Homo sapiens: one gene and its partner. The protein of the gene in region 2 purifies or fractionates together with the protein of the main gene of each other region. This does not show direct contact. Each region holds a gene or a part of one and is shown on either strand. Other genes may lie near its edges. The genes, in order: CKM and ZNF24.

What was found.
Region 1: the proteins of ZNF24 (region 2) and CKM purify together in Homo sapiens (affinity purification with mass spectrometry; 2 studies listed by BioGRID and IntAct, with this or other methods). This does not show direct contact.

What each region holds. Positions count from the first base shown.
Region 1 is NC_000019.10:45,319,673-45,327,228, forward strand, and holds the start of CKM (creatine kinase M-type), read right to left. Parts: upstream 3,204-7,556; 5' UTR 3,149-3,203; intron 60-3,148; 5' UTR 42-59; coding exon 1-41. UniProt on the Homo sapiens protein: Reversibly catalyzes the transfer of phosphate between ATP and various phosphogens (e.g. creatine phosphate).
Region 2 is NC_000018.10:35,331,658-35,334,648, forward strand, and holds the end of ZNF24 (zinc finger protein 24), read right to left. Parts: 3' UTR 570-2,991; downstream 1-569. UniProt on the Homo sapiens protein: Transcription factor required for myelination of differentiated oligodendrocytes. Required for the conversion of oligodendrocytes from the premyelinating to the myelinating state.

The DNA of each region.
Region 1 (7,556 bases), on a different chromosome or scaffold from region 2:
TAATTCAGCTTGAACTTGTTGTGGGTGTTACCGAATGGCATGGTGGCGGTGTAGGAGACCTGATGGGCAGGGCAGGAGGGGAAGATTGAAGATTAGCTGGCATCTTTTTTCTTCTTCTTCTTCTTTTTTTTTTTTTGAGACGGAGTCTCGCTCTGTCACCCAGGCTGGAGTGCAGTGGCACGATCTCGGCTCACTGCAAGCTCCACCTCCTGGGTTCACACCATTCTCCCGCCTCAGCCTCCCGAGTAGCTGGGAATACAGGCGCCCGCCACCACGCCGGCTCATTTTTTGTATTTTTAGTAGAGACGGGGTTTCACCATGTTAGCCAGGATAGTCTTGATCTCCTGACCTTGTGATCCGCCCGCCTCGGCCTCCCAAAGTGCTGGGATTACAGGCGTGAGCCACTGCACCCGGCCTTTTCTTCTTTTTTTTGAGATGGAGTCTCACTCTGTTACCCAGGTTGGAGTGCAGTGGCGAGACCTCGGCTCACTGCAGCCTCCACCTCCCAGGTTCAAGAGATTCTCCTGTCTCAGCCTCCTGAGTAGCTGGGATTACAGGCGCACACCACCATGCCTGGCTAATTTTTTTGTATTTTTATTAGAGATGGGGTTTCACCATCTCTACTGGTTGGCCAGGCTGGTCTCGAACTCCTGGCCTCAAGTGATCCACCCGCCTCGGCCTCCCAAAGTGCTGGGATTACAGGCGTGAGCCACTGTGCCCCGCCTAGCTCGCATCTTGCAGACAGCAGCAAGAGAACTGGGCAAGGCGTTGGGGTCAGGCAGGCTGTGTAACTTGGAGCAAGAGAAATCCTCTCTCTGAGCCCCTGTGTCTCAGCAGGAAGGCATCCGGAGTCTTAGATCAAGGGCCTGGCTCTGCCGTATCCCAGTTGGGTGAGCCTGGACTAGTCATTCTTGCTGGAAACTCAATTTCCCCAGGTGGAAAACGGGCCCCTCCCGGAGGCTGGAAAAATATTTTGTGTGGGTAAGAGTGTAGGTTCTGGAATCAGCCCAGGGTTTGATTCCCAGCTCTGCTACCTACAACCAGCTGTGTGGCCAGGGGCAAGTTGCTTAACCTCTGTGCCTCAATTTACTCATCTAGAAAATGAGGATCCTAACAGCACTTGCCGCATGGGAGTGTTGAAAAGATTAAATGTGTGAATACAGGTGTAGCTCTCGGAACAGTGCCTGGTACACAATAAGCATTATTTCACTTAGCTGCTATTATTATTATTATTATTATTATGTTTGAGACAGAGTCTCGCTCTGTCGCCCAGGCTAGAGTGCAGTGGCATAATCTCAGTTCACTGCAACCTCCACCTCCCAGGTTCAAGCAACTATCCTGCTTCAGCCTCCTGAGTAGCTGCAACTACAGGCGTGTGCCACACCTGGCTATTTTTTTTTTTGGTATTTTTAGTAGAGTTGGGGTTTCGCCATGTTGGCCAGGCTGGTCTTGAACTCCTGAACTCAAGTGATCCGCCCACCTCTGCCTCCCAAAGTGCTGAGATTACAGGCATGAGTCACGGCACCTGGCCTGTTGTTGTTATTTTAAAGGTTCGTGCGAGGAGCTGGTGAGAAGGTGGAGGTGAGGGTGCTGCTGGGAGTATGTGAGCAGGTTCTTGGATTATCAATCCAAAGACAAAGGGCTGGGTCGGGGGAGGGCTGGGTAGCTGCCCCCACCTCTGCCTGCTGACAGTTCTCCCACAGGGCTCAGAAGGGAAGAAAAGCTCAGCCTCTGGGTCGTCAGAGGCAGGTTCAAATCCCACCTATGCCATTTCCCTGCTGTGTGACCCCAGGCCAGTCACTAGGCCTCTCTGGACCTCTGTCTCCTGTGAACTGAGCCTGCCCCGTAGGATTGCCAGGATCCTCTGAGCTTGGCCATGAGGTTGGCTGAGCACAGGCCCTGGCATGGAGTTGGAGCCTGGAACCCTGGTGGCTGCTATTATTGTTATTTGTTATTACTACTTTTTTGCAGAGATGGGGTCTCACTATGTTGCCCAGGCTGGTCTGGGACTCCTGGCCTCAAGTGATCCTCCAGCATCGGCCTCCCAAGATGCTGGGATTATGCGTGTGAGCCACTGCGCCAGGTCCTACTGTTATTATTATTTTATTCACTGGACCCAGAAAGGAGAAGGGACCCAGAAAGGAGAAGGGGCCTCCAGCAGCGGTGGGAGACGGGGATGGGAAGCAGGTGGGATTGTGGGAGGGAGATTGGGACCACGGTGAGCTGAAGCCAGGGAAGAGGAACAGGGACCCGCCAAAGACCTTGGGTGCTGCTGTCCAGGGTGGTTATTTTTAGAATCTGGCAACTGCCTGCCATCCCACCCCCAGCTGCTGCCCCGCCCCACCCCCACATTCCGGGGCTCGGCTTGCACCAAGTCAGCAGGCCCAAGACAGGTGGGCCAGGGTGGCTGGGAGGACACGGGTCCAGGCCTCGGGGCTCAAGGACATCCTGGGATGGCAGCCCAGACCCCCTCCCTTCAGAGGATGCCCCCCTAATCCCTGCCAGGGACACCCCAGGAGAGGGCACTGAGGCAGGGTGGTGACCCCCCCCACAAGAGACATAAGCAGAAAGCCCCAGAGCCACACACCCCCACCACCGCAGACTCCCCAGATCACACTGTAAACTAAGTCACACAGTCACACTTCCAAACTCAAGGACATGCCCAGGACACTCATGTGTCCGCTACTAAGTCAGAAACAAGGTCACAGGGACCCACACAGTAGCAAACGCAAAGAAAGCCTGCGACACCTGCTCTTGCAGACTCTGCTAGGCGACAGACACACCTCCCACGGCTTGTGGCGCCAGTGTTGGCGACAAACTGTAATGAACACAGGCCTGGCTCAACAGCCCCTTGCAGGGGGTGACAGTTGGCAGCTGTCAGGACCCCTTTCATCTCGGATCCCTCCCCATAACCCAAGACTTGTGCCGCAGAAATCACAGGTCCCAGTGGGGGGTTCAGGCAGCCTCACAGATGGAGGGGCCTCCCAGACACACAAGGGTCAACCTTCCCACGCACCGACCTGCCTTTGTATAGGAGGATGTTGGTGGAGCAAGGGGTGACACACAGACCCTTTCCCAAGCCAAGCCTCTAGCACCCACAGAAATCCCCTACTCTGGCCCCCACCCAGATTCCCGCCCCGTGCAGTACCTGGCTGGGCTGGGCTGAAGGGGGGCTGTCTGTATCCTGGAGGTGACACTGACCCAAAGGAAGGGCCAGCAGCCGTGGCCTTATATAGGGGGACCTAGGCTGTGCTATTGGCTGGGAGGGGTTGTCCCCAGGGAGGAGTTCTGGAGGGCAGCTGAGCCTCTCACCTCCCTGCTCCCGCACCATACCCACCCTGAACCCAGGCATGCTTTGCGCCCAGCCCCATGGCCTTGTATGGGCTGAGCCGCCCCAGGGGCTGGGCTCACGCCCCCCCACCAAGCTGATACCCTGACCAAGTGCTGAGTTGGGCTGGCGGTGGGGACAGCTGGCCCCCCGCCGGGAACATGGGACGGTGGCTGGGAACGTCCCAAGCACGTAGAAGCCACCGTCCCCTGGCCCCTGAGTCTCCTTCAGCCACCAGCCCTTCCTGTGGCCCTCGGCTCCCCCTGTGCCCCCTGGGCCCTCACCCCTACCCGAGTCCCAGCGGCACCTCGGGGAACCAAGGTGTGGCTCCAGGAGGAGCAGATACCCTGTGAGCTGGAGGAAGCAGAGGCCGGGAGAAGGACCAATTGCAATGGAGGGCAGTCTAACCCCAGAAACCCGCGCTTGGGCGCCCCTTCCTCCTAGGGACTGAGTGGAGGGGAAACTGAGGCTGGCTGAGTTGGAGAGATTCAAACTCAGGGCAAGGGTGGGAGGCGGTGGTCACCCTCCCCCCCACTTAACCCTCGCCCCCTCGGTGCCACTGGGAGATTTCCGCTGTGCGGGGGACAGGGAGGGTCTCGGTCGCCGGGAAAGGAGTTATTTTTAGAGGGCGCTTTGCTGTCTCCTCTGCCGCAAAGGCCGAGACCCGAGGCGCTGGGTATGGGGGGGTTCGGGGGCAGGTGTTGGAGGGGGGTTCGCCACGTGTCCTGGTTAATTATAACCGGGCGTCTCGGGTGTCCTCGGGCCTCGCCTCCTTACAAGGGCAGCCACGGGGCCCTGGGTGGCCGCTCCCACCTCCCGGGGAAGGGGGCTGGGCAGCGACGCCGTTCAGAGCGCGGGCGCCAGACTCGCGCAGATCTGGGCAGAGCAAGCGCTCTCGGCGCCTCGGCTGTGAGCAAGGACTTCCAGGGCTGAGAGGGGGGTTCTGTGGAGGAGAGTACAGTATAGAGGAAGCCGCTTTCTCCTCCTGGGACGCGCCAGGATTGCAGGCTGATCGGGTCTCCTCCTCCAGGGAGCTCCCAGGATTGCGACGAAGAAAAGAATGTCCCTTCCCTCTGAGTTCCTCCCTATCCCAGGGTCTCCTGGGTCTCCTTCACATCTTCTTAGGCAGGTGAGGACTGGCTTAGAGAAAGGGAGCCTCTGTGCCTCTCCCTCAGACTCCTGATCTGAGGGGGGAGGGGAGAGGGGTGCTTTAGAAATATTTACATGGGGCCCAGCCCTTTCCCAGCAAGCTCAGATTGCCGAGGGTCTCCTTCACGGTTACGGAAACTGAGGCCCAGAAAACCAAATGGAACTGGTCTCGAAACAGGGATCTATCAGGCACTTCCTGAGGCTACAACAAAACACAAAACCCCCGCCGTCCTGGAGGTGATAGTGCAAGAGGGTCACAGATGAGGGGACGGCACAGCAGCAGGGGAGGTCGAGGCAGGCCTCTTTGGGAAGATGACATCTGAGCAGAGACCTGAAGGAGAACAGGGAGCCAGCCATGTGCGGCTCTGGGGGGAACAGCAGGTGCAAAGGCGCTGAGGTGAGAATGGCTGGGCACATCTGAGGACAGACAGGAAGGAGGCCAGGGGACTGGAGCAGATGGGGCCAAGGAGAGAGTGGGAGGAAGAAGATGAGGTTGGAGGGGAGACAGGAGCAGACCCATGGTGCCCTAGGGGCTGTGGGAGGAGTTTTAATCCCATTGTGATTGACAGTGAAAATGTTAGATGGGCCGGGCACAGTGGCTCAGGCCCGTAATCCCAGCACTTTGGGAGGCAGAGGCGGAGGCGGGTGGATCACTTGAGGCCAGGAGTTCAAGACCAGCCTGGCCAACATGGTGAAACCCCATCTCTACTAAAAGTACAAAAATTAGCCTGGCATGGTGACACACGCCTGTAATCCCAGCTAGCCAGGAGGCTGAGGCATAAGAATTGCTTGAACCTAGGAGGTGGAGGTTGCAGTGAGCTGAGATGGCACCATTGCCCTCCAGCCTGAGTGACAGAGCAAGACTCAGTCTCACAAAAAAAAAAAAAAAGAAAAGAAAAGAAAAAGAAAATGTTAAATGAACCAGGTATAGAAAGACAAACATCACAAGTTATTTGTGGGATCTAAAAATCAAAACAAGGAGGCTGAGGCAGGAGGATTGCTTGAACCCAGGCAGTCGAGGCTGCAGTGAGCTGTGATCGAGCCACTGCTGCACTCCATCCTGGGCAAGAGAGTGAGACCCTGTCTCACACACACAAAAATTAATTAAAATAACTAAAGGAGTATAATTGGATTGTTTGTAATATAAAGGATAAATGCTTGAGAAGATGGATACCCCATTCTCCACGATGTGATTATTACAAGTTGCATGCCTGTATCAAAACATTTCATGGCCGGGTGCAGTGGCTCACGCCTGTAATCCCAGCACTTTGGGAGGCCGAGGTGGGCAGATCACCTGAGGTCGGGAGTTCAAGACCAGCCTGATCAACGTGGAGAAACCCTGTCTCTACTAAAAATACAAAATTAGCCGGGGTGGTGGCACATGCCTGTAATCCCAGCTACTCGGTAGGCTGAGGCAGGAGAATCGCTTGAACTCGGGAGGCAGAGGTTTCTGCGGGCCGAAATCGCGCCATTGCACTCTAGCCTGGGCAAAAAGAGTGAAACTCCATCTCAAAAAAAAAAAAAAAAAAAAGAACAAAACGTTTCATATACCCCATAAATATACACACCTACTAAATACCTACAAAAAATTTTTTAGAATAATTTTTTAAAATATTAAATGGAAAAAATCATCATCATCATCCCACTGTGAGACTGACAGGAGGCACTGAGGGTCATAAGCAGGGAAGAGGCTGGATCCATGCCACACGCATTTTGGGTGGCACGGTCCAGCCACACCTTGTGGGAGGGTTTGTTTTTTTTTTTTTTTTTTTGAGATGGAGTCTTGCTCTATCACCAGGCAGGAGTGCAATGGTGCGATGTCAGCTCACTGCAACCTCCGCCTCCCAGGTTCAAGCGATTCTCCTGCCTCAGCCTCCCGAGTAGCTGGGACTACAGGCATGGGCCACCACGCTCTGCTAACTTTTATATTTTTAGTAGAGAAGGGGTTTTGCCATGTTGGCCAGGCTAGTCTCAGACTCCTACCTCAGGTGATCCACCCACCTCGGCCTCCCAGAGTGCTGGGATTACAGGCGTGAGGCACCCTGCCGGGCCCATTGCACATTCTTTTTAGCCACACAGTGCCAGAAGCCTTTTCTATGTTCGGGGATTCCCCACTGTAAGCCCTCCTCCTTTGGAGAAGCCAAAGATGCCAGAAACTCAATTTCCCAGAATCCCTTGCAGCAATGGTCCAGGCCAGTGACCTGGGCTGAGCCAATCAAACGCTCCAGCAGGACCTTGTGCCGTGAGCTCCCTCTGCTTTGAGTCTTAAAGAAACAGTTGGCCTTGGGGAGCTTTACAACCCTCATCACGTATCTTCATCCCACCCCCCAGAGCCCGACTGTCAATCCGACCTCTGCCCCTCCACTGCCCACTCTAGCTCAAGACCGCCTCCACTGTCCCTCCTGACCCAACTTCCTCCCTGGACTCCTGTCCCAGTCTTTGCCATTCCCACCTAAACCCTACCTGCTGACCTCCCCTCCTCAGAGCTTGCCATGGCTCCCCAGTGCCCTCAAGGTAAATGAGTATTTGTTGACTAAATAAATAATAGTAACTGTATCTGGCAGATGTAGGCGAGAGTAACCACTACCCAGCTTAAATAGAAAGGACTCTGCTATTGGCTGGGCGCAGTGGCTCACGCCTGTAATCCCAGCACTTTGAGAGGCCGAGGCGGGCGGATCACGAGGTTAGGAGATCGAGACTATCCTGGCTAACACGGTGAAACCCTGTCTCTACTACAAAAATATACAAAAAAAAAAAAATTAGCCGTGCGTGGTGGCAGGCGCATGTCGTCCCAGCTACTCCGGGGCCTGAGGCAGGAGAATGGTGTGAACCCGGGAGGCGGAGTTGCAGTGAGCCGAGATCGCACCACTGCACTTCAGCCTGGGCGACAGAGCGAGACTCCATCTCAAAAAAAAAAAAAAAAAAAAGGACTGTACTATCATGTATTAGGCACTGACAAAATCGTTGGAAGGGCTGAAGGAACACTGCTCGGGCCCCAGAACTACTTTCCTACTTTCCCTCTGGAAAATCTAGTCTTTAGCTTTCCAGCCTCTTCATTGACAGGAGAATGTGCTCGAAG
Region 2 (2,991 bases):
CCCATAACAGTGCCTGACCCAGAGTAGGCATTTAAATGTGTTGAATAAAAGCTTGCAAAATGTTTTCCTCAATTTTGAAAGACATCTCTTTGAAAACTCCATCTTAGGAGATGTGATTAATAGAGGTGCCAGGTGACATAGAGCGCTGCTACATTTCTGGCCATAGAAAAGAGCCCACAGGGTGAGGCTGCTCAGGTCTGTGTGTGCTCATTCACGTCTTGAGTCCACAGGCCTGAGAATGAAACAAAGAGCCAGAGAACCATGGAGTTGGGATGGAGGTCATTGGAAGGGCTCCAAGGGTTGTATACAGGGAATGCTTGAGGGGAATCCCCCAAGAACAATGGTAGGAGATGGGTACAGCTCTCAGCAGTGTAACCCTTAAAGTCCCAGGTTAATGAGTCTAGAGGAAGAATAAGAAGAGAACTGCCAAAGAGGCAATTGTGTAAAAAGCTGTTCATCCACATTCCCAACATCAATGTTGTTACTATTGGAATGTAAAGTGTATGTGTGTGGGGTGTGTGTTATAGGGAGAATGGAGTAACAAATGGCAAAAGTTGACACAGGCCAAATCATGGAAGGCCATGCTAATTTTATTAACTTATATAGTGCATAAAGTCTAGAATTTAAAATTACAAAGGTTTTCTACAAATCAATAAGAAAATACAAATAACCTATATTAATCAGAACAGAAACTCAATTCAATTATCTTAAACAAGAAAGGGACTTTATTGGCTCACAAAACTTTAAAGTCCGGAGGTAGGGCAGGCTTTAGGCACAGCTGGATCTAGGGCCTCCAGAAAAATGACATCAGAACTTAGTTCTCTTTCCATTTCTGCTAGCATCCGAGTTTCTCCTCAGACAGACTCTCTCCACATGGCACAAATTCAGGCTTACATGGTCCTTGGTTCCTGGGATCTCCATAAAGCCTTCTTTCCAGTAGTTCCAGCAGAAGTTCTGTTAAGGGCTTTCCTTAGCCTGGCTTAAGTTATATACCCATTCTTTTATCACTGTGGCTAGGAAGCTGTGGGACTCAGGAGGCCAGGCCTGGTCACATGCTCACCTAAGCCACAGGGAATAGGTTCCCCACAAATAAATAAAGGTTGTGTTACCAGAAGATGGGGAAGGAGATGCTGAACAAATAAAAACAATATATCCACACATAACCCAATAGAAAGCAGGTAAGGGATACAAACAATCCACAGTAAACTATAAATGGCCAATAAACATGAAAATAACCCCAATCTCACCATTTTTTTTTATAATCAGGGAAATGCAAAATAAGAAAAGGTTCTTTTTCGCCCAACAGATAAAAACTATCAAGTGTAGGTATGGTTATATGGGGAAATGAACATTCTCCATACACTTGGTGAAAATACAGTTATGAAGGCCTTTGGGAAGACTGAAGGTGGACAGAGAACAAACCCTTTGATCCAAAAATCCACCTTACTGGACTCCAGACTAAAGAAATATTCACACACATGCACAAAGACATCTGAATAGGATGTTTACTTTGGCAATGTAATAGCGAGAGGAAAAAAATTAAGGGAATAAATAATGGCATTTTCATAGTATTTAATCATATTCAACCATTAAAGAAATTTAAAGACCTGTTATCTTTTTTTGAGACCAAAATTTTAAAAAGCTACAGAATATGAGATCCTATTTATGTAAAAAGTGTTTTTATGTGTATGTATATTCGTACGGAAAGGTGACTAGAGGATGTATGTTAAACTGTGGTAAGTGGAATGTGATTGGTAGCATTGGAGAAAAGGGTCTCTCTATTCAAAGAACTGTGTTTTTTATACAATGAGAAGGTAGTCATTAGACTTTCATAATTAAAAAAAGGAAAATGGGCAAAAGCAATTCATAATAGGAAATGCAAATGGCCAAGAAACATGAAAAGATGTTCCTCCTCATTAATATTCAAAGAAAAGAAAGAAATTTTGCCTACCAGATTGGCAAAAATTTTTAAGGATTCAGGGTTGGCAGACTATAGGCAAACAGGCATTCTTACTAATGATGGAGTTGTAAATTGGTGAAATCTTTTTGGTAGTAGTTTTCAAAACTGCAAATGTGAAACCTGATCCAATAAATTTCTAGTTATTCATCCTACAGAAATACCCACACAAGTAGCAAAATACATGTACAGGAATGTTAATTACACTTCTATCTATAATGAACCTAATTATCAATCCATAGGGGATTAAATAAATTACAGAATATTCATGCAATGGAATAGTATATAGTTATGAAAAAAGAACATCTTCAATGTGGGGGGAGAGGAGGCAAGTCTCAGTGTAGTGCATGTGAAATGGGGTTATGTCCTACTTTATACGGTAGCTGAGGATTAAGAGTTAATCCATGATAAAGCACTTCAAATAGTGCCTGTCACAGCAACCACAGGTGTCAGCTGTTAACACATTATTGATTAAATAAGTATATGCCTAAATCTGGAAGAACAAACGAAATTATCATGACTTCTCGGTAACACTGTGAAAGGAAATATCCTTTTTCATTTTACATTTCTGCACTGTAAAAAATTCAAACCAGCAATGTTTAATAGCTTTCACATTTGTTAACCATAAACACAAATTTATCAAGGTTTAATAGCCACCACCCATGGCATGGTGAATATGTCCCTGGAGTCTACAGAACCAGATTTGAATTTTATCTCTAGGCCACATGCAAGTCACATGATCTCTGAATCTTGCTTTCCTAGTCCACAAATCTAAGTGAGATAGGTACGGTGTCTAAGCCAATGCCTAGCATGCAGATTATTTCAGTACATGTAACCCTCCCTTCAATTTACATGAATATGAGACATATTGCTAAAGATCAAGTACCAACTGGGTATGACTACAGAGAGCTTAACCTCCAAGAAAGCCAGAAGAAAAAACCAGCAAATGCTCAGTGGCTACTGGGCAGATATCAGCAATCTGCATGACCTAAAATGACTGCTCATTTGCTAACCAAACAGATACTCTGGCGATG